Homo sapiens: one gene and its partners. The protein of the gene in region 5 purifies or fractionates together with the protein of the main gene of each other region. This does not show direct contact. Each region holds a gene or a part of one and is shown on either strand. Other genes may lie near its edges. The genes, in order: SERINC1, RABL3, METTL9, CMSS1, AGPAT3, VKORC1L1 and BCL7B.

Evidence for each region.
Region 1: the proteins of AGPAT3 (region 5) and SERINC1 purify together in Homo sapiens (affinity purification with mass spectrometry, with the first as the bait; one large-scale study listed by BioGRID). This does not show direct contact.
Region 2: the proteins of AGPAT3 (region 5) and RABL3 purify together in Homo sapiens (co-immunoprecipitation; 2 studies listed by BioGRID and IntAct, with this or other methods). This does not show direct contact.
Region 3: the proteins of AGPAT3 (region 5) and METTL9 purify together in Homo sapiens (affinity purification with mass spectrometry, with the first as the bait; one large-scale study listed by BioGRID). This does not show direct contact.
Region 4: the proteins of AGPAT3 (region 5) and CMSS1 purify together in Homo sapiens (affinity purification with mass spectrometry; one large-scale study listed by BioGRID and IntAct). This does not show direct contact.
Region 6: the proteins of AGPAT3 (region 5) and VKORC1L1 purify together in Homo sapiens (affinity purification with mass spectrometry; one large-scale study listed by BioGRID and IntAct). This does not show direct contact.
Region 7: the proteins of AGPAT3 (region 5) and BCL7B purify together in Homo sapiens (affinity purification with mass spectrometry; one large-scale study listed by BioGRID and IntAct). This does not show direct contact.

Annotation. Positions count from the first base shown.
Region 1 is NC_000006.12:122,454,808-122,458,307, forward strand, and holds part of SERINC1 (serine incorporator 1), read right to left. Parts: intron 1,844-3,500; coding exon 1,674-1,843; intron 1-1,673.
Region 2 is NC_000003.12:120,701,017-120,704,516, forward strand, and holds part of RABL3 (rab-like protein 3), read right to left. Parts: intron 1-3,500. UniProt on the Homo sapiens protein: Required for KRAS signaling regulation and modulation of cell proliferation. Regulator of KRAS prenylation, and probably prenylation of other small GTPases. Required for lymphocyte development and function. Not required for myeloid cell development.
Region 3 is NC_000016.10:21,613,077-21,616,576, reverse strand, and holds part of METTL9 (protein-L-histidine N-pros-methyltransferase isoform 1 precursor), read right to left. Parts: intron 1-3,500. UniProt on the Homo sapiens protein: Protein-histidine N-methyltransferase that specifically catalyzes 1-methylhistidine (pros-methylhistidine) methylation of target proteins.
Region 4 is NC_000003.12:100,177,862-100,180,046, reverse strand, and holds part of CMSS1 (protein CMSS1), read right to left. Parts: intron 1,743-2,185; coding exon 1,659-1,742; 3' UTR 1-1,658.
Region 5 is NC_000021.9:43,962,723-43,966,222, forward strand, and holds part of AGPAT3 (1-acyl-sn-glycerol-3-phosphate acyltransferase gamma), read left to right. Parts: intron 1-3,500. UniProt on the Homo sapiens protein: Converts 1-acyl-sn-glycerol-3-phosphate (lysophosphatidic acid or LPA) into 1,2-diacyl-sn-glycerol-3-phosphate (phosphatidic acid or PA) by incorporating an acyl moiety at the sn-2 position of the glycerol backbone.
Region 6 is NC_000007.14:65,946,074-65,949,573, forward strand, and holds part of VKORC1L1 (vitamin K epoxide reductase complex subunit 1-like protein 1), read left to right. Parts: intron 1-2,597; coding exon 2,598-2,707; intron 2,708-3,500. UniProt on the Homo sapiens protein: Involved in vitamin K metabolism. Can reduce inactive vitamin K 2,3-epoxide to active vitamin K, and may contribute to vitamin K-mediated protection against oxidative stress.
Region 7 is NC_000007.14:73,544,191-73,547,690, forward strand, and holds part of BCL7B (B-cell CLL/lymphoma 7 protein family member B), read right to left. Parts: intron 1-3,500. UniProt on the Homo sapiens protein: Positive regulator of apoptosis. Plays a role in the Wnt signaling pathway, negatively regulating the expression of Wnt signaling components CTNNB1 and HMGA1.

The DNA of each region.
Region 1 (3,500 bases), on a different chromosome or scaffold from region 5:
GCAGTCATCAATACCAGCTATGACCACATGTCCAGCTGCAGAAACGAGGGCTGTAATTGTTGTGAGTACTTCCTCCTTGTTTTGTCAAAAACATGTTCATGCATGCATATACTTGTACTAAGAAAATATCTTCATTTTATTTCCATTCTCCTTTATCATGTGACATAAGATTTACTGACTTCACATCAGCATTTAAGTATTGTTAACTTTATGTAATTAGTATTTTGGTTGGGGACTGGTGCGTTTTCAGTTGTAAGGTTAGTTGTATGACCTTATTATTGTCTTTATTTGCAGATTATGTATGATCTCAGGAGATGTATACGGGTTCAAGTTGACAATGGGTAGACTTCTGATAGTTATACTGAGTGTCAATTGAATTCAAGGATGCAAAGTACTGACTTGTAATGGTTAATACTGAGTGTCAACTTGATTGGATTGAAGGGTGCAAAGTACTGATGCTGGGTGTGTCTGTGAGGGTGTTGCCAAAGAAGATTAACATTTCAGTCAGTGGGCTGGGAAAGGCAGACACACCCTTAATCTGGGTGGGCACCATCTAATCAGCTGCCAGCAGGGCTAGAATATAAAGCAGGCAAAAAAAAAAAGTGAAAAGACTAGACTGGCCTAGCATCCCAGCCTACATCTTTCTCCTGTGCTGGATGCTCCCTGCCCTTGAACATCAGGCTCCAAGTTCTTCAGTTTTGGGACTAGGACTGGCTCTCCTTGCTCCTCAGCTTGCAGATGGCCTATTGTGGGACCTTGAGATCATGTGAGATAATACTTAATAAACTCCCCTTTATATATATCTATCTATCCTATTAGTTCTGTCCCTCTAGAGAACCCTAATACACTTGATTATCAGAAAAAACAACAATTACATAAACTGCTTTTAAGACCATTTTGAGAAAGATGTATTTCTCACTAATTCATTATGGAAAAATGAGAATGTTAGTTCCATTTCACAGGCTTATTTCACATAAGTGGGATAATGTATCAAAGTATAAGGTGAACTGTATAAATGAATAGTTTTTATAAACACATGATAAATGCCTCCATCTAAAACTCTAATAATTTAATAAAATAATCAATGACCAAAGGAACAAAATAAAGGAAAAGCAACCCGTCACATATTTTCTCATTAATATTTATATTCTACTTGTTTATACTTTTTGTCTTTGGTAGCACATATAACTAGATAAGCAACAGCAGATATTAAAACAGTCAAATAAGGGTACCAGAAGTAGTGCTCTATATGAAGGAAGATTGATAAAAGAAACCCTGAAGTTTCTTTCTGGGTTGTCCAATACAACCAACCTAGAAAAATCTGCTCTCTGGGTCTAGGGAACTGAGAGTTCTATGTAAGTGGACTGGTCCACCTAAAGTTAACAGTAGAAGGAGAAATAGCTATTCCCTTAGTAGTCACAAATATAATAGAGCCTCTTTTTTAGTATGAAAATATAAAACACTGTGGATCAGAGGTTATCACAGCTATTATTTAATATCCAAAGTCTGACATTCTCCAGTAAAAACAAGATTTTCTTATCCTGTCATTCATGAATAAAGTAATTCTGCAAATTGTATAAGTTTATTTTACCTTAAAGTTTCCTTGGATAAACTGGCAATTATCAAGAAGAGGCTACCCAAGCTTTTATATTGAAGCTTATTTAAAAACTTACCCATTGTGCACTGCAGCTCTAGGATCACTGCTACTCTTCACTTTGATCATTAGTAAAGAGAGAAGAAGATAGAACATAGCCAAACCAAAGCACAAACGATATACAGCTTTATAGCCAACCAAAATGTTACAAGGGACAACACCTTTCTCATTCTCACAAAATCCAGGAATCTAGAAAAACAAAAGAGTTTATGATCCATCATTTTTTTTCATTAAGTAAAAATAAAAATTACATGTAATCAAATAGTTTAAGTAAAGGTTTAGAAAACTGGCATTTGCTTTACAATTTATGATGAATATGTACTCAAGATGAGTCTGATACATTTTAATCACATACAGTGGGGAAAAAAGAGTTAAATCCCCATCTGCGCAAATCATAAACTACAATACCAACTCTATGCTGGTTGCTTATTTTGAGTTATAGATTTATCCTACATTTTAAAAACTTGCATTCTACTTGAATAGCACGATAGACTTGTTTTAGTAGTGTAAGTGCTATTTCTGAGACTACTGTTCAGAACTATTAATACATCTATTATTCATATATATAAGAATAAATTATTTCCTCCCACTCTTTCCAGTCCCAGCACTCTAAAAAAACTGCTTTTCCAGGATACTAGTCATGTACTGGTTTCCAAACCCAAAGGCTACTGCTTAATCACATTCCTTAATCTCATTTTTATATAGACACTATCCCTGTCATTCTTAAAACTTTCTTCCTAGAACCTATACATTTTCTTTGTTCTTTTCTGTTATCCCTTCCCTCCCAGTTTTCTAGGATCAGAATCAGGTTTTCCTTTCTCCACTAACTCCCTTAAGTAAGAGATTTTGGCAGAGTTCTAGCTCTGCTCACTCTGAATGATCTTCAGCATACGCTGCCATGGTTTCAACATTCAATTTCTATCCTCAAGGCAGTCTCTAGCTCTGATTTCTCTTTTAAATTCCTTCATGTTTTCTACTTACTGCTGTATATTATTATGGACTTCGTGTTTGTGTCTACCCAAAATTAAATGCTGAAACTCTAACCCTCAATGGGAGGATAGTGGGAGATAGGGCCTTTATGTGGTAATTAAATCATGAGGGTAGAGCCCTCAGGATGGGATTAATGCCCTTATAAAAACAGACAGAAGAGAGCTGCTGCTTTCTTTCAAAAATGTAAGATGGCCATGTGTAAACCAGGAATAAGATCCTCATCAGAACTTGACCATGGTGGCACCCTGATCTCGGACTTTCAGCCTCCAAAACTGAGAAATAAATTTTTGTTGTCTTAAGCCACCCAGCCTATGATATTCTTGTTATAGCAGCCTGAACTGAGTAAGACATACATATATATATATATATATACATGTACACGATACAATACCACCAAGTCAACATGTTAGAAACTAAATTTATTATGTGTTCCCAATCTCCTTCCACAACCTGACTCTCTCTAAAAATTTTCCTTTCTAGGTTAATAGCAATACTTTCCTCCCGGTTTTGTAGGACCAGAACCTGGTTGTTATTTATGATTCCATATCACTGCCAATATTTCAGTGCTAGGCTCAGTCAATTTTACATCCAGAAAATCTTATTTCAGGTCCGCTATTCTCTTCTTGATTATACCACTGCAACAGCCTCCATATTTAACTGCTTGACTTTTATACTTTATTAATTGTAAGATTAATCTTCCTAAAGTATAGATACTTTGCTTGAAAAGCTCTTTTATACTCATTATGCTTTCTATTTTTCAATCTCTGTATATGCAAGTTCTAATCATTCTTAGAACATCCTTTTTTCCATGACCCATTGAGATTCTGACACCTGGTTAGAATTATACTTCTTTCTG
Region 2 (3,500 bases), on a different chromosome or scaffold from region 5:
CCATCCACCCATCTCCCCTGGCCCCCTATAGGTTACCATTTTTATTAGTTTCTTATTTTTCACTGATTCTTTATCCAAATATAAATACATATTATTTCTTTTCTTTCTTATACAATAGGAGGTATACGATATATATTCTCTGCATTTTGATTTGTTAAACCTAATAATGTACCCTCTGTAGATCTTTCTATTTTAGTTCATAGAGATCTTCCTGATTCTTTTTTAAACATTGAATACTACTCCAGTATGTGGATATGCCATTATTTATTCAATGAATCTTTCGTTGCTCGGACACTAGGGTTGTTTCCAAATTTTTTGATGCTATACAATAATGCACCAACAAAGCACACCAATGTATTAAGGTTGTTTTATACATTTGCAGGTTTATCTATAGAATCAAAATGAAACTGTAGTGTCAAAATGCAAATGGGTATAGAACTTTTACTGAATTCCCTGACAAAAATGCAGATTTCTTTCTGATATGAATATGCTGTCTCCTAACCCTAAATTTAAGGATAAGTTTCTTAAGTAGAAATTTTAGTAGAAAATAGAGAACAAGCTAGGTTAATGAAGACATCAGTGATGAAAGGAATTGAGATAGGAAATAAATATCAATGAGGCTTTGAAATATAGGTTTTAAATTAGTTGTGCTTATTCTTTATTAGGTCTTGCTGGAATCTACATATATATACTCAAACTTATACTATATTTAGGTTTCACATAACAATTAGACTTCCACACAGAAAACAAAGCCTTTGAAAGACTTGCTTCAATCAAAAGATAGAAAATGGGGTTCTGTTCTAGGTAAGACAGAATAAGCAAACTCTATCCTGTCTTTCCCAGTGAATGCAACTATAAAACCTGGACAGGATACATGAAGTGGCTATTTGAGGACTCTGAAAAATTAATAGTGAGCATATTAAGGAAGACTGCAATGTGAAGAACCATTGAATTAGCAGTTTCCTTCCATATCCCCTTGTCTGAATGCAACTCAGCTTAAAACCCAAAAGTGTGAACAGAATACTCCAGAAGAAGGCCTATAGTTCTGGCTCATGAAACAAGAAAGGGGACACACGAATACTTGGAGATAGTGTAGAAATACAATATTTTTCCTTCTGTTGTAAGCCAGCTTCTGAGCAATTTCATGACAGTTGTGGCAAAGGCTATAACACAAGCAGAATGCTCAAAAACAACAGTCCCCAACCTTTTTGGTACCAGAGACTAGTTTCATGGCAGACAATTTTTCCATGGACAGGTGTTTGGGGGATGGTTTCAGGATGAAGCTGTTCCACCTCAGATCATCAGGCATTAGTTAGATTATCATAAGAAGCCTGCAACCTAGATCCCTCACATGCACAGTTCACAATAGGATTCACGCTCCTATGAGAATCTAATGCCTCTGCTAATCTGACAGGAGGTGGAGCTCAGATGGTAATGCTCACTCACCTGCCACTCACCTCCCACTGTGTGGCCTGGTTCCTAACAGGCCATGGACCAGGGGTTGGGAACGCCTGCTTACAAATACAGAGGAAGGGAAATTTTTCTTTTTTTTTTTTTTTGAGACGGAGTCTCACTCTGTTGCCCAAGCTGGGGTGCAGTGGCGTGATCTCGGCTCACTGCAAGCTCCGTCTCCCAGGTTCATGCCATTCTCCTGCCTCAGCCTCCCAAGTAGCTGGGACTACAGGCGCCCGCCACAACGCCTGGCTAATCTTTTGTATTTTTAGTAGAGACAGGGTTTCACCATGTTAGCCAGGATGGTCTCGATCTCCTGACCTCATGATCCGCCCGCCTTGGCCTCCCAAAGTGCTGAGATTACAGGCGTGAGCCACCGCGCCGGGCCCAGAAGGGAAATTTTTCTGACTGATGGAACTGTATCTCAAGACAGTGGGGCAAACTCCCATTGCTTTTATTCTTTGTCCTTCTACCACTTGGCCCTGGACATAGGTGCAGTTGTGCAAGTGCATGAGAAAATTTGGCCTGGGGACCGAAAAAGGGAGCCCCAGCAAATCACAAAGTATGGCAGAGACTGTAGACAGGGTGAAGTGTGAGAAAGCAACCCCATGAAGTAGTTCGTGAATGCTTGAGCTCATTGCCAAAGCTGTGCATGCATGGATTTGATCCTACTTAGTGTACCAAAGACACTGAAAACTGAAACAACAGAGACAACAACACCCAGGTCACATACCGGGTGTTGCACAAATATAAAATAAGTGAAATCATATAAAGTATGTTCTTGGATCATAATAAAATTAAGCTAGAAGTCAATAGCAAAAAATAACTGGAAAGCCTCTAAATACATGGAAACTAAACAACACATTTCTAAACAGCCTATGGGAAAATCTCAAGGAGTATTAGAAAATATTTTGAACTAAATGAAAATAAAAGTAATACATTTAAACATTTGCAGGATGCAGCTAAAGCAGTGTTTAGAGGGAAATTTATAGCATTAAAATACTTGTATTGGCAAAAATGCAAGGTATCCAGTAAGTAATCTAAGAAGCTATAGAGAACAAAATAAACCAAAAGCAAGCAGAAGGAAAGAAATAAGAGTAGAAATCAATTAAACTGTATATGGAAAAACAATAGAGAAAAATCAATGAAACCAAAAGTTGCTTCTTTGGAAAAAAATCAATACAATTGATAAACCTCTACAAGTCTGACAAGAAAAAGAGAAGACATAAAATACCAAAATCAGAATGAAAAAGGTCATATCACTACAAACTGTGCAACTATCAAAAGGACAATAAACAAATACTATAAACAACTCTATTGATATACATTAAAAAATTTAATGAAATAGATGGAATTCCTTGAAAATCACAAATTACAAAAACTCATCCAAGATGAAATAAATAACTTGAACAATCCTAATTACTAAAGAAGTTGACTTTGTGGTTAAAAACCTTTCAAATAAGAAACCTCCAGGCCCAGATGGTCTCTTGGTAAATTCTACCAAACCTTCAAAGAAGAAATAACACCAAATATACTCAATTTCTTCCAAAAAATAGAAGAGGAAGGAATACTTCCAATTAATTCTATGAGGCCAACATTATCCTCACACCAAAACCAGTCAAAGACATTATGAGAACAGAAAACTACACACCAATGCCTGTCATGAACATGGATAAAAATCCTCAACAAAATATTAGCAAATCAAATCCAGCAACACATAAAATGAATAATACACCATGACCAAGGAATGGAAGGCTGGTTCAATATTTGAAAATCAGTGAATGTAATCCACCAGTATTGAAAATCAGTGAACGTAATCCACCATACTGACAGCCTAAAGAAGCAGCCACATGTCCATATCAATTGATGCAGAAAAGGCTTTTGACAGAATTCAGTATCTGTTCATGATATTAACAAAACTATCAGCAAATTAGGGATAGAAAGAAATGTTCTCAACCTGATAAATGATGTCAACAAAAAAAACCTAAAGCTGACATCATACTTAATAGTGAAATGAATGCTTTCCCCCTAAGATTGGAGTAAGACAT
Region 3 (3,500 bases), on a different chromosome or scaffold from region 5:
AGTTTAACTGGAGATTGAAGAGAACCCTCAGAAAAGCAACTATAGGTCCAGCCAAGTCTCATGGAAGCATCACTCTGGGAAATAAAGCGCAATCCCTATTTAGGACTTGTTTTCTAGCTCTGAAATTCTAGTTTATCTAGGACAGGGATTCTCAACCCTCCTTTAAGCAGCAGAACCCTTTCTTTAAATGAAGTGGAACTCACAGATAACATAAGATCCTAAGAGAGCTGCTGCTGTTCGAATGAGGTTGGGAGCCCAGGAGCTGTGGCCAGCCCACTTCTAGGCCTTTCTCTGCAGCCTGAAGCAGTTCCTGAGGCACTTCCTCCTCAGACCCTAGAAAACAGTTTGGGGACCACTGGTCCAGGAAGTGGCAGGGAAACCTGTTCTGTACTGCTGCTCTCTGGAAACAATCATAAGGTACAGAATGTTTGCTGCTATACAGTGACTGGAAAGATGCATGCAACACGGTGCCCAAGGTAAGACCAGTTTTAGGAAAAAATACAAATAATGGAGTTCATGTAACAAAGTCCCCCTTCCTTTTCCCATTAAGGCCATAGGAGAGTTTAACCAAGTTTACAGTAAATCTTCTGCCCCCATAGAAATGCTAAAAATTTGGAGAAAGACCTCAGAGACCACTAAACGTGATGCTACCGACTACAACTGCTTACCAAAGAAAATCACGTCTCATAAAAGACAAGTTGTTTTAATCCTCAATTGTTCATATATTACAGTAAGAAAATAAGCAAATCTGAACTTGCTGAAGTAGCTGTACAAAATTTAACACAGAAACCAGTCACAGCAGAAAGAGGCTACTGGCAGCATGGCTGAGGGGAGGCGAATTTCAAATACTGATGCTGACTTGCCACAGGACCAAAAGTAAGTCACAAAATAGTTATTTTGCTTAAATTTTCCCAGAGCGTGCTTCCCAAGCCATCTCCTTGGGATGTGAGGAATCTTGACATGATAATTATAAAATTCTAGAACAAGAGGTCACCTGAGCTCAGAGCTCACAAGTTCATCTGACTGGTCTACATTTATAGGCACTAGAGGCTGGGCATGGTGGCTCACGTCTGTAATCCCAGCATTTTGGGAGGCCGAGGTGGGAGGATCTCTTGAAACCAGGTGTTTGAGACCAGCTGGGCAACATGGTGAAACCCCGTCTCTATAAAAAATACAAAAATTAGCCAGGCACGGTGGCATGAGCCTCTAGTCCCAGCTACCTGGGAGACTGAGGCAGGAGGACTGCCTGAGCCTGAGGAGGTCAAGGCTGCAGTGAGCCATGATTGTGACACTGCACTCCAGCCTAGGCAACAGAGCGAGACCCTGTCTCCAAAAAAGAAAGAAAGAAGGCACTAGAGAAAGAGGGGAAGCATTGTCCTATTTCGAAAGAACATTAGCAACAGGGGCTCTACAAAAAGATTAACACTGTCAAAAAATAAATCAAAATCCATCAAGCCCAGTGTTTATCAACCAGGATTGATTTTGCCCTCTAGGGGGCAATGGGAGTAGACAGGAGAGTTTCCAGTAATCACAAGGACCTGGGGGTACTACTGCCATTTAGTGGGCAAGGCCAGAAAAGTTAGACTTCCTGCAGTGTGGGGGGCAGTCTCGCACAATGAAAAACAGTATCACCTAAAATACTGAGCCCAATACAAAGTTTCCCATAAACACAAACCATGAAGAGATATGACCCTCTAATTTGGGTTTAACTTTAGTGTTTAATAACCATCCTAGGTTCTCTGATCACAATCTAAGTTCTCTCTAGACTTAAGAGTCTACGGAGAGATGCACCTCTTCCTTATAAAATAAACTCTGGAACATCTACTAAGTCTTTCCTTACTTGGCCTTCTCCTTTCCAAAATAAAGGAAGTTTGATAAGTATCCTAAGGTAATACAAGACAGTACTACAGTAATGATTTCTGTGAGAGATGGCCACCTGTAGTAATTATCTCCCACTGCCATGACCGGAAAGTACTGATGGGCCCTAAAATTTAGTTTTTAGCTGAGAATGGGACACAAGGCAAGAAGGACTGAAAGCAGGGTGGGTATCAGAAGGAAAAAGCAGAAGAGTTTTAAGTAAGGGAAGCCAAAAGGGGTTTATTAACTGCATTGCCTCTTTGATCAAACTGTGAAATTCTAGAGCACGGAATTTTAACCAGGGTCTTATGGGTAGAGGAAAGGGGAAATAAAAGTTTGAAGCCCCCAAAATCATACACAAAATGTTGAATGTAAGCACTTTTTGAAGAGAGGATTCCTACCTTTATCACTTTCAAAGAGCTACAGGACCCCAGAAAGGATAAGAATCTCTGCTACAGTGACTCATCTGAATTCCAAAGGAAGAATAAATGGTATAGAACAGAAATTCAATATAACCAATTTAAGGAACAAAATGTCAGACCAAGTTGTATCAACTCAACCACCCATATAAAAATAACAACTGTTTGCCAAAGCAAACGTATGGCAATTTCACATAAACAATGAAGAAAATCAACTGAGAAATCTTGAGAAATGGCTTGCGGTGCCTGAAGACTTAGGACCAGATGATACACTGGGGATCCAGTCAGTCAGTAGAAACTGCTCCAAACCTCAAGGGAAAAGAAAAGTGGGCCCAACCAGTGGTTTGAGTGGTCCAATGAGGCTTCTTAACCATTGAGCCTGTTGCTTTTCTCTTTGGCATTTTAGATTCTAGGTCCTTAGGAATGCTTGAAAACATGGCCAAGAAAGGATTGAAAAAAAAAAAAAACAAAAAAAACTCCTAAAGCTTTTTCTATGGATTTATATGAGGGAACCACTCTGGGGACAGAGAATTCCACAATAAGTTCATAAAATTCTGGTGAACCTAGACATTATTTAAGAACAGATGCAGGACTCTTCACTCAAAATAAGCCATCATCCACTGTTGGGCTGACTAATTATATCTCCCAAAAAAAATTTGCCACTGCGAAGTATGTTTAAGGCAAAGATCTTACTTTTCAGCCTAAGGGCGTAAAGCCCTCAGCTTCAGGGCTTGGTTCCAGGAGTCTTGCTACTTTGTGGTCCAGAACCAGCAGCATTCAGCATCACTGGCATCGTCTAAGAGCTTGTTAAAAATGCAGACTCTCCAGGTGCAGTGGCTCCCACCCATAATCCCAGCACTTTGGGAGGCAAAGGTGGATGGATCACTTGAGGTCAGTTAGAGACCAGCCTGGCCAACATAGAAACCTCGTCTCTACTAAAAATACAAAAATTAGACAGGTGTGGTGGTGCACACCTGTAATCCCAGCTACTTGGGAGGCTGAGGCATGAGAATTACTTAAACCCGGGAGGCGGAGGCTGCAGTGAGCCCAGATTGCCACTGCACTCCAGTCTGGGAAACAGAGCAGGACTGTCTTTAAAAAAAAAAAAAAAAAAAAAAAAAAAAAAAAAAAAGCAGACTCTCAGACCTAGCCCCTGATGTACTAACTCATAATCTGCATTTTAACAAGACCCCCAGGTGATTCCTATGTACATCAAAGCCAAGA
Region 4 (2,185 bases), on a different chromosome or scaffold from region 5:
CCAAGGTACAGCTGAACCATTGCTTCAGAGGGTGCAAGCCCCAAGCCTTGGCAGCTTCCACGTGCTGTTGGGCTTATGGGTGTGCAGAAGGCAAGAGCTGAGGTTTGGGAGCCTCTGCCTCAATTTCAGAGGATGTATGGAAACGCCTGGATGTCCAGGCAGAAGTCTGCTACAGGGGTGAAGCCCTCATGGAGAGCCTCTACTAGGGCAGTGCAGAGGGGAAATGTGGGGTTGGAGACCCTACACAGAGTCCCCACTGGGGCACTGCCTAGTGGAGCTGTGAGAAGAGAGCCATCATCCTCCAGACCCCAGAATGGTAGATCCACTGACAGCTTACACTGTGTACCTGGATATGCTGTAGGCACTCAACACCAGCCTGTGAAAGCAACCATGGGGACTGTACCCTGCAGAGCCACAGGGGCAGAGCTGCCTAAGGCCTTGGGAGCCCACTCCTTGCATCAGAGTGGCCTGGATGTGAGACATGGAGTCAAAGATTATTTTGGAGCTTTAAGATTCAAAGAGTGCCCTGCTGGGTTTCAAACTGGCATGAGGCCTTTAGCTCCTTTGGGCCAGTTTCTCCCACTTGGAATGGGAGCATTTACCCAATGCCTGTACCTCCATTGTATCTTGGAAATGACTAACTTGTTTTTTATTTTACAGGCTCATAGGTGGAAGGAAGTTGCCTTGTCTCAGATCAGACTTTGGAGTTGGACTTTTCAGTTAATGCTGGAATGAGTTAAGACTTTGGGGGACTGTTGAGAAGGCATGATTGTGTTTTGAAATGTGAGAAGAACATGAAATTTGGAAGAGGCCGGGGTGGAATTGACATGGTTTGGCTCTGTGTCTCCACCCGAATCTTATGTTGAATTATAATTCCCAATGTTGGGGGAGGGACCTGGTGGAAGGTGACTGGATCATAGGGACAGATTTTCCCCTTGCTGTTCTGCTGTTCTCATGATAGGGAGTGAGTTCTCACAAGATCTAGTCGTTTAAAAGTGTGTGGCATTTCTCCCTTCACTCTCTTGCTCTCTTGTCGCCATGTGAAGATGTGCTTGCTTCCCCTTCACCTTCTGCCAAGTTTCCTGAGGCCTCTCAGCCATGCCTCCTGTACAGCCTGTGAAACTGTGAGTCAATTAAACCTCTTTTCTTTATAATCTACCCAGTCTCGGGTAGTTCTTTATAGCAATGTGAGAATGGATTAATATACCTGCCACCCTTTTTGCTGGGACCATGCCTCAGAGTTTACAAATCTGCTCCCCATGTACTATCTCCTGGAATCCTCAACAATGCTGTGAGACATTCCCACTTTGAGTTGATAAGATGGGGCTCAGAGAGGCAAGACCTTACGCTTGCCTAAGGTCACCCAGCTGCTCTTTCCTTTCTCCTGCACAGTTACATCAGAAGCCAGTTGGTGACAGAAAAACACGGTCCGCTCAACAAGGATCATACACAAGCCGGTGATACTTTATTATATAAGAGAGTTGTCAAAAGGACAGTTTCATTTCTGTTTCAGAATCCCCACATTCCAGTGATCCATCTGTTGACACAATTAACATAAACTATTTGCTGATATTTACTGAGTGCTTGCAATGTATCAGAGTCATTAAATAAGATGCAACTTCTACTGTGAAAACTGGAATCTTCATTAGGACACAGACTTAGAAAAGGCCCAGTTTCAAGGATTCTGACTTGCACAGACTGAGCACTCCCATTTCCAGAAGTTCGAATACCTCCTTTCTTATCTAAATGAGAGAAAAGGGGGGAAAAAAAGATTAAGATCAAGCCAAAATGGTCTTGGTGAATACATTCAACCATCAGGACTCCCTGATATTTACCCAGCTGTTATGGCCAGAATCAGAGAGTGCAAAAGTCCTAACACACATTTGATTCAGAGTTGAAATTTTTAAAATTATTATTATTATTATTTTGAGACAGAGTCCCATTCTGTTGCCCATGCTGGAGTGCAGTGGCGTGATCTCGGCTAACTGCTATCTCTGCTTCCCAGGTTCAAGTGATTCTCATGCTTCAGCCTTCTGAGTAGCTAGGATTAGAGGTGTGTGCCATGATACCTGGCTAATTTTTGTATTTTTAGTAGAGACAGGGTTTTGCCATGTTGGCCAGTCTGGTCTTGAACTCTTGGCCTCAAGTGATCCACCTGCCTTGGCCTCTCAAAGTGCTGGGATTA
Region 5 (3,500 bases):
CGCGAGACAAGCTAGGGTTAACAGTGACCCTTGGGTTTCAGCAGAGGCAAACGAAAGTACACTCTGGAGAAAGTCTCATTCAGGCCTGAAGAATCCCACAGATTAAGGAAAATTAAATATGAATTCATAATCAAGAATGACAACGTAAACAGCAGATGTGGACTGAAGATGACCCACTGTGCCCCGACTTGAAAGAGAACCAAGTAGAACTGCTCTCAGTGAGAACTGTAGATATTTTAAAGCAAAAACTTACAGACAGGTTTTGTATCAGATTAGATACAGTTAATGAGAATGGGTACAGAACCAAGTAGAACTGCTCTCAGTGAAAACTGTAGATATTTTAAAGCAAAACCGTATGGATGGATTTTGTATCAGATTAGACACAGTTAATGAGAGAATGGGTACACCAGACATCAATGTGAAGAAATCATCCAGTGACAGTAAAGGAGGTGAAAAATGTGAAATAGGCGTGAAAAGATGTAAGGACAGAATGAGAACCTTCATAAAATAGGGCTTTGGCCCCCATCCCCAAAGGAGAGAACAGGAGAAGCCTCCTGGGAAGAGAGGATGCCTGAGGACCTCCTGAACTGATGAAGGCACGATTTTTCAGATACAGGAAGCACATGTAGACCAAGCAGAGCGAATGCACAGAAATCCACACCTAGGCAGGCCCTGGGGCATCACAGACCATCAGAGACAAGGAGGAGCCGGGCGCGGTGGCTCACGCCTCTAATCCCAGCATTCCAGGAAGCTGAGGCAGGAGGATCCCCTGAGGTCAGGAGTTTGAGACCAGCCTGGCCAACATGGTGAAACCCCATCTCTACTAAAAATATAAAAATTAGCTGGGCCTGGTGGCACATGTCTAATCCCAGCTACTGGGGTGGCTGAGGCAGGGGAATCATTTGAACCTGGTCGGTGGAGGTTGCAGTGAGCCGAGACTGCATCACTGCACTCCAGCCTGGGTGACAGAGTGAGACTCTGTCTCAAAAAAAAAAAAAAAAAAAAAAAGATAAGGAAGTCTTCGAATCCCCGGAGAGGAAAGCTGGAGAACCACGCTGGATGGTCAGCAGTGAGGCCGACAGCAGATTTCTTACGGCAGGCAGCAGTGGCGGGAGAAGGTGGAAGATCCTCAATGTGCTGGAAAATCACCAACCTAGCACCCTGTGTTGTTCAAGAGTACAAATAAAATAAAAAGGTTTTGGTAAACAAAAAAATGAGAGCTTTTACTGCCCATAGATCTTCACTTCAATATTTTTTAAGGATGTGTTTCAGTAAGAACAAAAATTATAAAAGTAGGGTATAATTTTCAAGAAAGAATGGTAGCCAAAGAAATTAGGAGATGGATGAATCTAAACCGTATGTAAAATAAAAACAGTGCTCAGCCGGGCGCAGTGGGTCACGCCTGTAATCCCAGCACTTTGGGAGGCCAAGGTGGGCGGATCACCTGAGGTCAGGAGTTCAAGACCAGCCTGGTCAACATGGTGAAACCCCATCTCTACTAAAAATACAAAAATTAGCCTGGCATGGTGGTGGGCACCTGTGATCCCAGCTCCTCAGGAGGCAGAGGCAGGAGAATCGCTTGACCCTGGGAGGTGGAGGTTGCAGTGAGGTGAGACTGCACCACGCTCAGCTAATTTTTTGTTTTGTATTTTTATTAGAGATGGGGTTTCACCATGTTGCCCAGACTGGTCTCAAACTCCTGACCTCAGGTGATCCGCCCACCTCGGCCTCCCAAAGTGCTGGGATTACAGGCGGGAGCGCCCAGCCCAGGTTCAGATTTTAATGGTAACTTTGTTAAGTATAGGGTAGGAAAAAAGAGAGATCAAACATAGCTTCCAAAGTATTAGAAAAAGATAAAGAAAAAAAGGTAAATCTCTTTTGTTAATGCAAGAAAGTAGAAAGAAAAGCATTAAAATAAGAAATATTGAGGTATACATTAAGATCAATATAAAATTCCCAGATACTTGGGATGACCACAAATACACAAGAAAAGCACTTCAGTAAGAACAGAAATAATCGGCCTCTCCATCTGCTGGGCTTGCGTGGGTATGTGAATTCCGTCTGTGACTTGTTGGATTTGGGATGTTCTCCACTTAGATTTATTTCCATGAATATGTTTGTGGGAGCCTTTCTGCAGTCAGAGGTATGTGGAAGCCTTTGCCAGTTCAGGGGCGCATGGTGAGAGCAGACCTCACAGTGGGTTTGTTTATGTTTGTTTGTTTTTGAGACAGGGTCTTGCTCTGTCGCCCAGGCTGGAGTGCAGTGGTGTGATCTTGGCTCACTGCAATCTCTGCCTCCTGGGCTCAAGCAGTCCTCCTACCTCAGCCTCCTTGAGTAGCTGAGACCACAGGTGTGCACCATCATGCCCAGCTAATTTTTGTATTTTTTGTAGAGACAGGGTTTTGCCATGTTGCCCAGACTGGTCTCCAACTCCTAGGCTCATGTGATCCTCCTGCCTCAGCCTGCTGGGCTGCTGGGATTACAGGCTGAGCCACCGCACCAGCCACAGTGTTTTCTGATGACCCTGAACCACGGTTTTATTTTCAATTCTTCATTCCTGTTCTCATTCCTTAATGCTGGGTGCCTTCTTGCTGCCCATTTTGAACTCACTGCCAGTGTGTCTCTGCTGTCATCTGATGTGCAGAGCTATAGGTGCTGCGGCGAAGGGTGCAGGTTTGGAGCCGTTTAAACAACCTGGCCCAGCCTCCTCACTCCCTGCTGACCTTGGTCAAGGCTTCAGTCTCTAAACCTCAGCTTTCTCATCTGCAGAGCACAGACAAAACCACCTGCCTTTGAGCTGTCTTATAAAGCCTAAATCAATGCGCACAGCAGGTACACAGCAATGCTTGATAAATTGTTACTATTATTGGGTGAATTTTAGGTTTTTTTTGTTGTTGTTGTTGTTTTGAGACAGAGTCTCTCTGTTGTCCTGGCTGGAGCACAGCAGTGCGATCTTGGCTCACTGCAACCTCCATCTTCTGAGGTTCAAGTGATTCTCGTGCCCCAGCCTCCCAAGTAGCTGGGATTACAGGTGCCTGCCACCACATCCAGCTAATTTTTTTTATTTTTAAGTAGAGATGGGCTTTTGCCATGCTTCCCCAGCTGGTCTTGAACTCCTGGCCTCAAGTGATCCTCCTGTCTCGGCCTCCCAAAGTGCTGGGATTACAGGCTTGAGCCACCGCACCCGTCCAGAATTTTAGATTTTTTTAAATCCGTGGTTGAAAAATAGGCTATGGCTGGCTTACTCATTGTGCTTTAGGGAAGCATGTATTTGAGTGAAGGAAATGATAAAAGGAATTTCATATCGGGCCCAGGCGCCGCCCACCCTGCAAGACAGTTTACAGATGCCTGCCCTGACAGCTGTCTGCAGTTAGCCAGCGTCAGCCGAGGGGTCCTGAGATCCGCTGAAGGCTGCCTTTGCATGCCGACAGCAAGGGAAAAGTGCCACATGTCCCTGGGCTTGCCACAGGTGACCTTTGGATGGGACCATTCTCCAGACA
Region 6 (3,500 bases), on a different chromosome or scaffold from region 5:
AAAGCTACTAAACGTCTTTCATAGCAATTAGAATAAAATTCAAACTCTTCGGCATGGCCTACACACAAGGCCCTAAATAATGTAAATGATTGGACTCGCTCCCAGTTCTCCTGTCACTCTCCTCAATCACCATGCCCCAGCCTCAGTGGCCTTCCTTGGCACACCCACAGCTCATTCCTACCTCAAGGCCTTTGACTTGCCATTGCTCATGAGACCGATTGCTTACCATCACTCAGGATCTCATTCAAAACTTCATTCCTGGAAAAGGTCCTTCCCGACCATCAAGCTAGAGGAGCTTGCTGCACCCCTTCTCTGCCCACAGCTATGGATCTCCAAGTGTGGGCTTCAGACCAGAAGCGTCAGTGTTGCCTGCAAGCATTTCATTTTGTGTTGTGTTTTCTCTGGAAATGCAGAGTCTTAGGCCCCACCACAGACCCACTGAAGGAACAGCTACATTTTAACCAGACCCCAGAGTGATTGTGCTTTAAAAATTTCAGAAGCACTGATCTAGAGTTTCCCCTTCTAATTTTCCTGTGTATCTGTTACAAGGTGTGTCCATTGCTGCAGGTAATCTGGCATTTGTTTACCTGTTTATTATTTCTCTTCCCTAAATAGAATTTAAGGTCCACAAGGGCAGCACCTCGTCTGGCTCGTTCACTTCTGGATCCCCGGCACGTAGCGTCAGTGCACACAGTACATGCTCAATAAGTATTTAGATGAGTGAAAGAATAAATGAATATAATGGAAATTATTTTATGTTCTTTGAAATGTATAACTGAAGGCTGGGTGTCATAGCTCAGCCTGTAATCCCAGCACTTTGGGAGGCCAAGGTGGGAGGATTGCTTGAGTCCAGTACTTCAAGACCAGCCTTGGCACATGGCAAAGCTGCAACTCTATAAAAAAATACCAAAAAAAAAATATATATATATAGCTGGGTGTGGTAGTCTCAGCTACTTCGGGAGGCTGAGGCAGGAGAATCACTTGAACCTCGGAGGTCAAGGCTGCAGTGAGTCATGATTGCAACTGCACTGTAGCCTGGGCAACAGAGGAACATCCTGTCTCAAAAAAACAAAACAAAACAAAACAAACAAAAAGGATTGCATAATTCTACAATAAAAATCTTCATGGCTTTCACTTGTTTGTAAAATCGGGGTGATTTTTCTCTCCCAACATCATCGTTATACAGGGGTTTCATTCTATATCTTGGGCATCAAGTGCTATTAAACTATTGTGGCCTGTGAAGAATTACTTATTTATCCTTGCTTTGGGGCAGTTTGTCTTCAGAACCAAAGTTTAGATTTTGTTTAGACTGATTCTCTACTGACTTAACACCATAACTGGTTTTTTTTTTTTTTTTTAGTATTTAAGAAGCACTCTCGTTCAATCCAGAGTTAACATTATCTTTAAAGGTTTTTTATTCAAAATGAATGTTTGATATTTGTATCAAGTTTTATCAAATAAGTTAACAATTTAAAAAAAATCAGGTTTTAAAAATGTTAAGTCAAATGCAAGATTTAAAGTTAAATTGCAAATAAAAACTGATAGGGCATATAATGTATCCAGTTTTTTACATCTGAGATAGGATTCCAGGAAAGACCTATAGTTTCTGATATTATCCTGCATTTTTTTTTTTTGAAATGGAGTTTTGCTCTTGTTGCCCAGGCTGGAGTGCAGTGGTGCAGTCTCGGCCCACTGCAACCTCTGCTTCCAGGGTTCAAGTGATTCTCCTGCCTTAGTCTCCCAACTAGCTGGGATTACAGGTGCACACCACCATGTCCGGCTAATTTTTTGTATTTTGAGTAGAGACGGGTTTCACCATGCTGGCCAGCCTGGTCTCGAACTCTTGACCTTGTGATCTGCTCGCCTCGGCCTCCCAAGGTGGTGGGATTATAGGTGTGATCCACGGGCCCGGCCCTACATTTAAAAAATACATTCCCAGTATATTTCTTAATGCATATCCTGGTGAAATTTGTGAAGAAACAACTTTTCAATCTATATTCTTTGAGTGAATAAATAGCACAACTTACATTCTATGGTTTTCAACTGGGGGCAGTCGTGTCCCAGCGGATGTTTGGCAATGGCTGTGACTGCATTTTTGGTAGTCACACCTGGGATGGAGGAGTACTGGCAGCATCTAGTTGGGGGAGCTCTGGGGTACTGTTAGTTATGTAATGCACAGAACACCCCACAGCACAAAGAATTATCTAGCCCAAAATGTCAGTAGTCCACTGTTAAGAGACAGTGGACAACTGTCTCCTTCTGCATAGAGAAGTCTCCTTCTGCAAATACTAATGCCATTGGAAAACGAATACTTTGCCCTACCTTCTGGAGAAGAGAATATATAGAAATTGGCAACTGAGAGATTCAGATGGGTATACTGGCACCTTTAGATATGTTCATTTTAGATGATTATTTCTAATCAGAAATCTAGTGACTGGCCTCCCTCTCTTTGGGGCAAATCACTCTCTCAACACAGGACATTTAAGACATTTCACAACTTAGTTGATTTTAGAATTGGATAACGTTCTCAAATAATGATACATTTTTTAAAATAGGGAAATTCAAATATAGGGTTACTGGTTTTCCTTATTTTACAGATGGGGTCGAGGATTTGGTCTTTTGGGTTCCATTTTTGGAAAGGATGGTGTATTAAACCAGCCAAACAGTGTCTTTGGACTTATATTTTATATACTACAGTTATTACTTGGTAAGTATTTATCAATACAAAAATAAGTTTGTTATATTCCGTTTAGTACTTTGTGTCTTTGCCCTGAAGTGTCTTGATGTTAAAGCATGTGTTATTTATAGAACCACTAGCGTGTACAACATTTTTGTGTTATGAAAACTTGATTCACTGAGATTTTTATTATATTATTGTTGAATTTATGTCAATTGCTGTTTAATCATGGAGAGCAGTATCTCATGATGTCCAGAAAAACCAGTCCCATTCCAGGAAATTATCACTCCCATCTTCCCTGTTAACGTTTTTCCTTATTTTATAGACTCAGTGGCCTTGAAAAATATCATATATTAAGGGGACATTAACAAGAAACCATATTCATAATCCCATTACCTTTACATATCCACTATTTCCACAGTCTTCTGCTTTTAAAAATAATTTTTGGGCTGGGTGCGGTGGTGCACACCTGTAATCCCAGCACTTAGGGAGGCCAAGATAGGCAGATCATCTGAGGTTGGGAGTTCGAGACCAGCCTGGCCAACATAAAGAAACCCTGTCTCTACTAAAAATACAAAATTAGCTGGGCGAGGTGGTGCATGCCTGTAATCCCAGCTACTCATGAGGCTGAGGCTGGAGAGTCACTTGAACCCGGGAGACGGAGGTTGTAGTGAGCTGAGATCGCGCCATTGCACTCCAGCCTGGGCAACAAGAGCGAAACTCCGTCTCACAAAAAAGAAATAAATAATAATAATAATAATAACTTGGGGCCAGGTGCAGTGGCTCACACCTGTAATCCTAGGACTTTGGGAGGCCGAGAAGG
Region 7 (3,500 bases), on a different chromosome or scaffold from region 5:
CGCATGGATCACCTGAGGTCAGGAGTTCAAGATCAGCCTGGCCAACATTGTGAAACCCTATCTCTACTAAAAATACAAAAATCAGCCGAGTGTGGTGGCATGTGCCTGTAATCCCAGCTACTTGGGAGGCTGAGGCAGGAGAATTGCTTGAGGTGGAGGTTGCAGTGAACCAAGATGGCACTACTGCACTCCAGCCTGGGCTACAGTGCGAGACTCCATCTAAAAAAACATAAAATAAAACAAAAAATAAAATAAATAAATAAATAAATAAATAAAAATACAAAAATGAGCCTGGCATGGTGGCATGTGCCTGTAATCCCAGCTACTCTGGAGGCTGAGACAGGAGAATCGCTTGAACCTGGGGGGTGGAAGTTGCAGTGAGCCAAGATTCTGCCACTTCATAACAGCCTGGGCGAAAGAGCGAAACTCCATCTCAAAAAGAAACAAACAAAAAAACCCAAAAAACAAAATGATCACCCCATGTTTATTTTTACCTATAACATTTGTTTCAAGAAAGATGTAGGTTATAAGTGCAGGGCAACCACAGTGGGCAGGTAAGCACCAGCTTGCAACAAGAAAGCCCAAGGGCCAGGCACAGTGGCTCATGCCTGTAATCCCAGCACTTGAGGAGGCGGAGGTGGGAGGATCCCTTGAGCCCAGGAGTTTGAGACCAGCCTGGGCAACATAGTAAGACCCCATCTCTACAAAAAAATAAAAAATGAGCCATGTATGGTGGCATAGGCTGGTGGTCCCAGCTACTGAGAAGGCTGAGGTGGGAGGATCGCTTGAGCCTGAAAGTTTGAGGCTGCAGTGAGCTATGACTGTGCACTCCAACCTGGGCAACACAGTTAGACCCTAACTCAAAAAAAAAAAAGCCCAGAGTAAATCCAAGCATATGAAAATGAGAGCATCCCAAAAGCCAAAAGTTTAAATCTGAGTAGCCTCAAATTTACCAGTTCACACTTTTTATACATTTCCGGTAGATGCATTATATTAGTAACGTAATTTTTGTTAATAACTCAATTTTTTGTTTGTTTTTTGAGACAGAGTCTTGCTCTGTCACCCAGGCTGGAGTGCCATGGCACAATCTCGGCTCACTGCAAGCTCCACCTCCCAGGTTCACGCCATTCTCTTGCCTCAGCCTCCCGAGTAGCTGGGACTACAGGCGCCCACTACCATGCCCAGCTAATTTTTTGTATTTTTTAGTAGAGATGGGGTTTCACCATGTTAGCCAGGATGGTCTCGATCTCCTGGCTCCAGGATGGTCTCAATCCGCCCGCCTCAGCCTCCCAAAGTGCTGGGATTACAGGCGTGAGCCATCGCACTCGGCCAAGGAAAGGGGGTTTTCTAGCAGCATCTACTCCTGTCTATACACAATGCCCAAGAGATTTAACTGCTTGACCTTTGACCCCTGTGGGTAATGGCCAGAGCCAGGCTGGATGGGGGAATAAACAGTTGCTCCAGAACCACGCCCCATCAACTCCATGAGTTTGGCATCCTAGAACTTCTTGGGATGGCTGCTCTCAGATAAAGGCAGAGTCCATACAGTTGGTGCTAGGAGGTTCCCTGGAGCCAGAGAGGACAGCAGAGAGCAAAAGGGAGAGGCTGAACCCTGAGGCTAACCTCAACCTCCTAAATTCATTTACAGAAAGGAAAACTGGCCGGGCGCGGTGGCTCACGCCTGTAATCCCAGCACTGTGGGAGGCCGAGGTGGGCCGATCACGAGGTCAGGAGATTGAGACCATCCTGGCTAACACGGTTTTCACCCGCCTCCACTAAAAATACAAAAAAATTAGCTGAGCGTGGTGGCGGGTGCCTGTAGTCCCAGCTACTTGGGAGGCTGAGGCAGGAGAATGGCGTGAACCCAGGAGGCAGAGCTTGCAGTGAGCCAAGATCGTGCCACTGCACTCGAGCCTGGGTGACAGAGCGAGACTCCATCTCAAAAAAAAAAAAAAAAAAGAAAGAAAAACTACGGATCAGGCTTCCGTCCTCCTCGTAGTTACACATTACCAGCCAATGCAATTGAGAGTCCCAAGGGAATAAAAGGTGAGTGCACGCATAAAACTCACCAGAGATTGGAGGAACACAGGCACCCTGATAAACAGAACAGTCTGTACCAGAAGGAGCAGAATAACTGAAATTAAACATGGATTTGCTCAGAAAGATAAGGATAATATTGAAAAGTTGTTTTAGCCAGGGGCAGTGACTCACAGCCTGTAATCACAGCACTTTTTGGGAGGCCAAGGTAGGCAGATCACTTGAGGTCAGGAGTTCGAGACCAGCCTAGCCAATATGGTGAAACCTGTCTCTACTAAAAATAGAAAAAAATTAGCTGGGCATGGTGGCACATGCCTGTAATCCCAGCTACTCAGGAGGCTGAGGCAGTAGAATCATTTGAACCTGCAAAGTGGAGGCTGCAGTGAGATGAGATCATGCCACTGCACTCCAGCCTGGGTGACACAGCGAGACTCTGTCTCAAAAAAAAAAAAAGTCGTTTTGAGGAAGAACCAATTGAGGCAATTTGTTATGAAAAATACAATTGCTCAAATAAAAATTAAGTGAATGAGGTTAATTGAAATACATACAGCTAAATAAAAGATTAATGAGCAAAAACTGCGTTGAGAAACTCAGAATGCACCAGGAAAGACAAGAAATGAAATGAATGAGAGAAAAGTTAAGAAATAAAGCAGTTGGCCAGGCGTGGTGGCTCACGCCTGTAATCCCAGCACTTTGGGAGGCCAAGGCGGGCGGATCACCTAAGGTCAGGAGTTCAAGACCAGCCTGACAACACGGAGAAACCCCATCTCTACTAAAAATACAAAAGTAGCTGGGCATGGTGAGGCAAGCGCTACTCGCGAGGCTGAGGCAGAAGAATCACTTGAACCTGGTAGGTGGAGGTTGCGGTGAGCTGAGATTGTGCCATTGCACTCCAGCCTGGGCAACAAGAGCAAAACTCCATCTCAAAAAAAAAAGCAAGCAAGCAAGCAGCTGCGTGGGTGCAGTGGCTCACACCTGTGATCCCAGCACTTTGGGAGGCCAAGACAGAAGGATCGCTTGAGCCCAGGAGTTTGAGACCAGCCTGGGAAATACAGCAAGACCCTGTCTCTACAAATAATTTAAAAGTTTGCCAGGCGTGGTGGCACGTGCCTGTAGTCCCCGTTACTTGGGAGGTGGAGACATAACTATTTCTTGAGCTCAGGAATTTGAGGCTACAGTGAACCATCATTGCACCACTGTACTCCAGCATGAGCTATGGAGTGAGACAGTCTCAAAAAAAAAGGAAAAGAAATATTACAGGATATTTTGAGGGAATTCCTAGGAGATCAAATATAGAAGAAATGCTAAAGTTTCCAGGAAGCCAAGTAGATCACCTACAAAGACTCAAGCATGGGAATAACATCACATTTCTTAACAGCGACACTGGATGTACAATTCAGTAATAGCTTCAAAGTGCTGAAAGAAAATAATTTTGAACCTAGAATTTCATATACAGGTAAAAT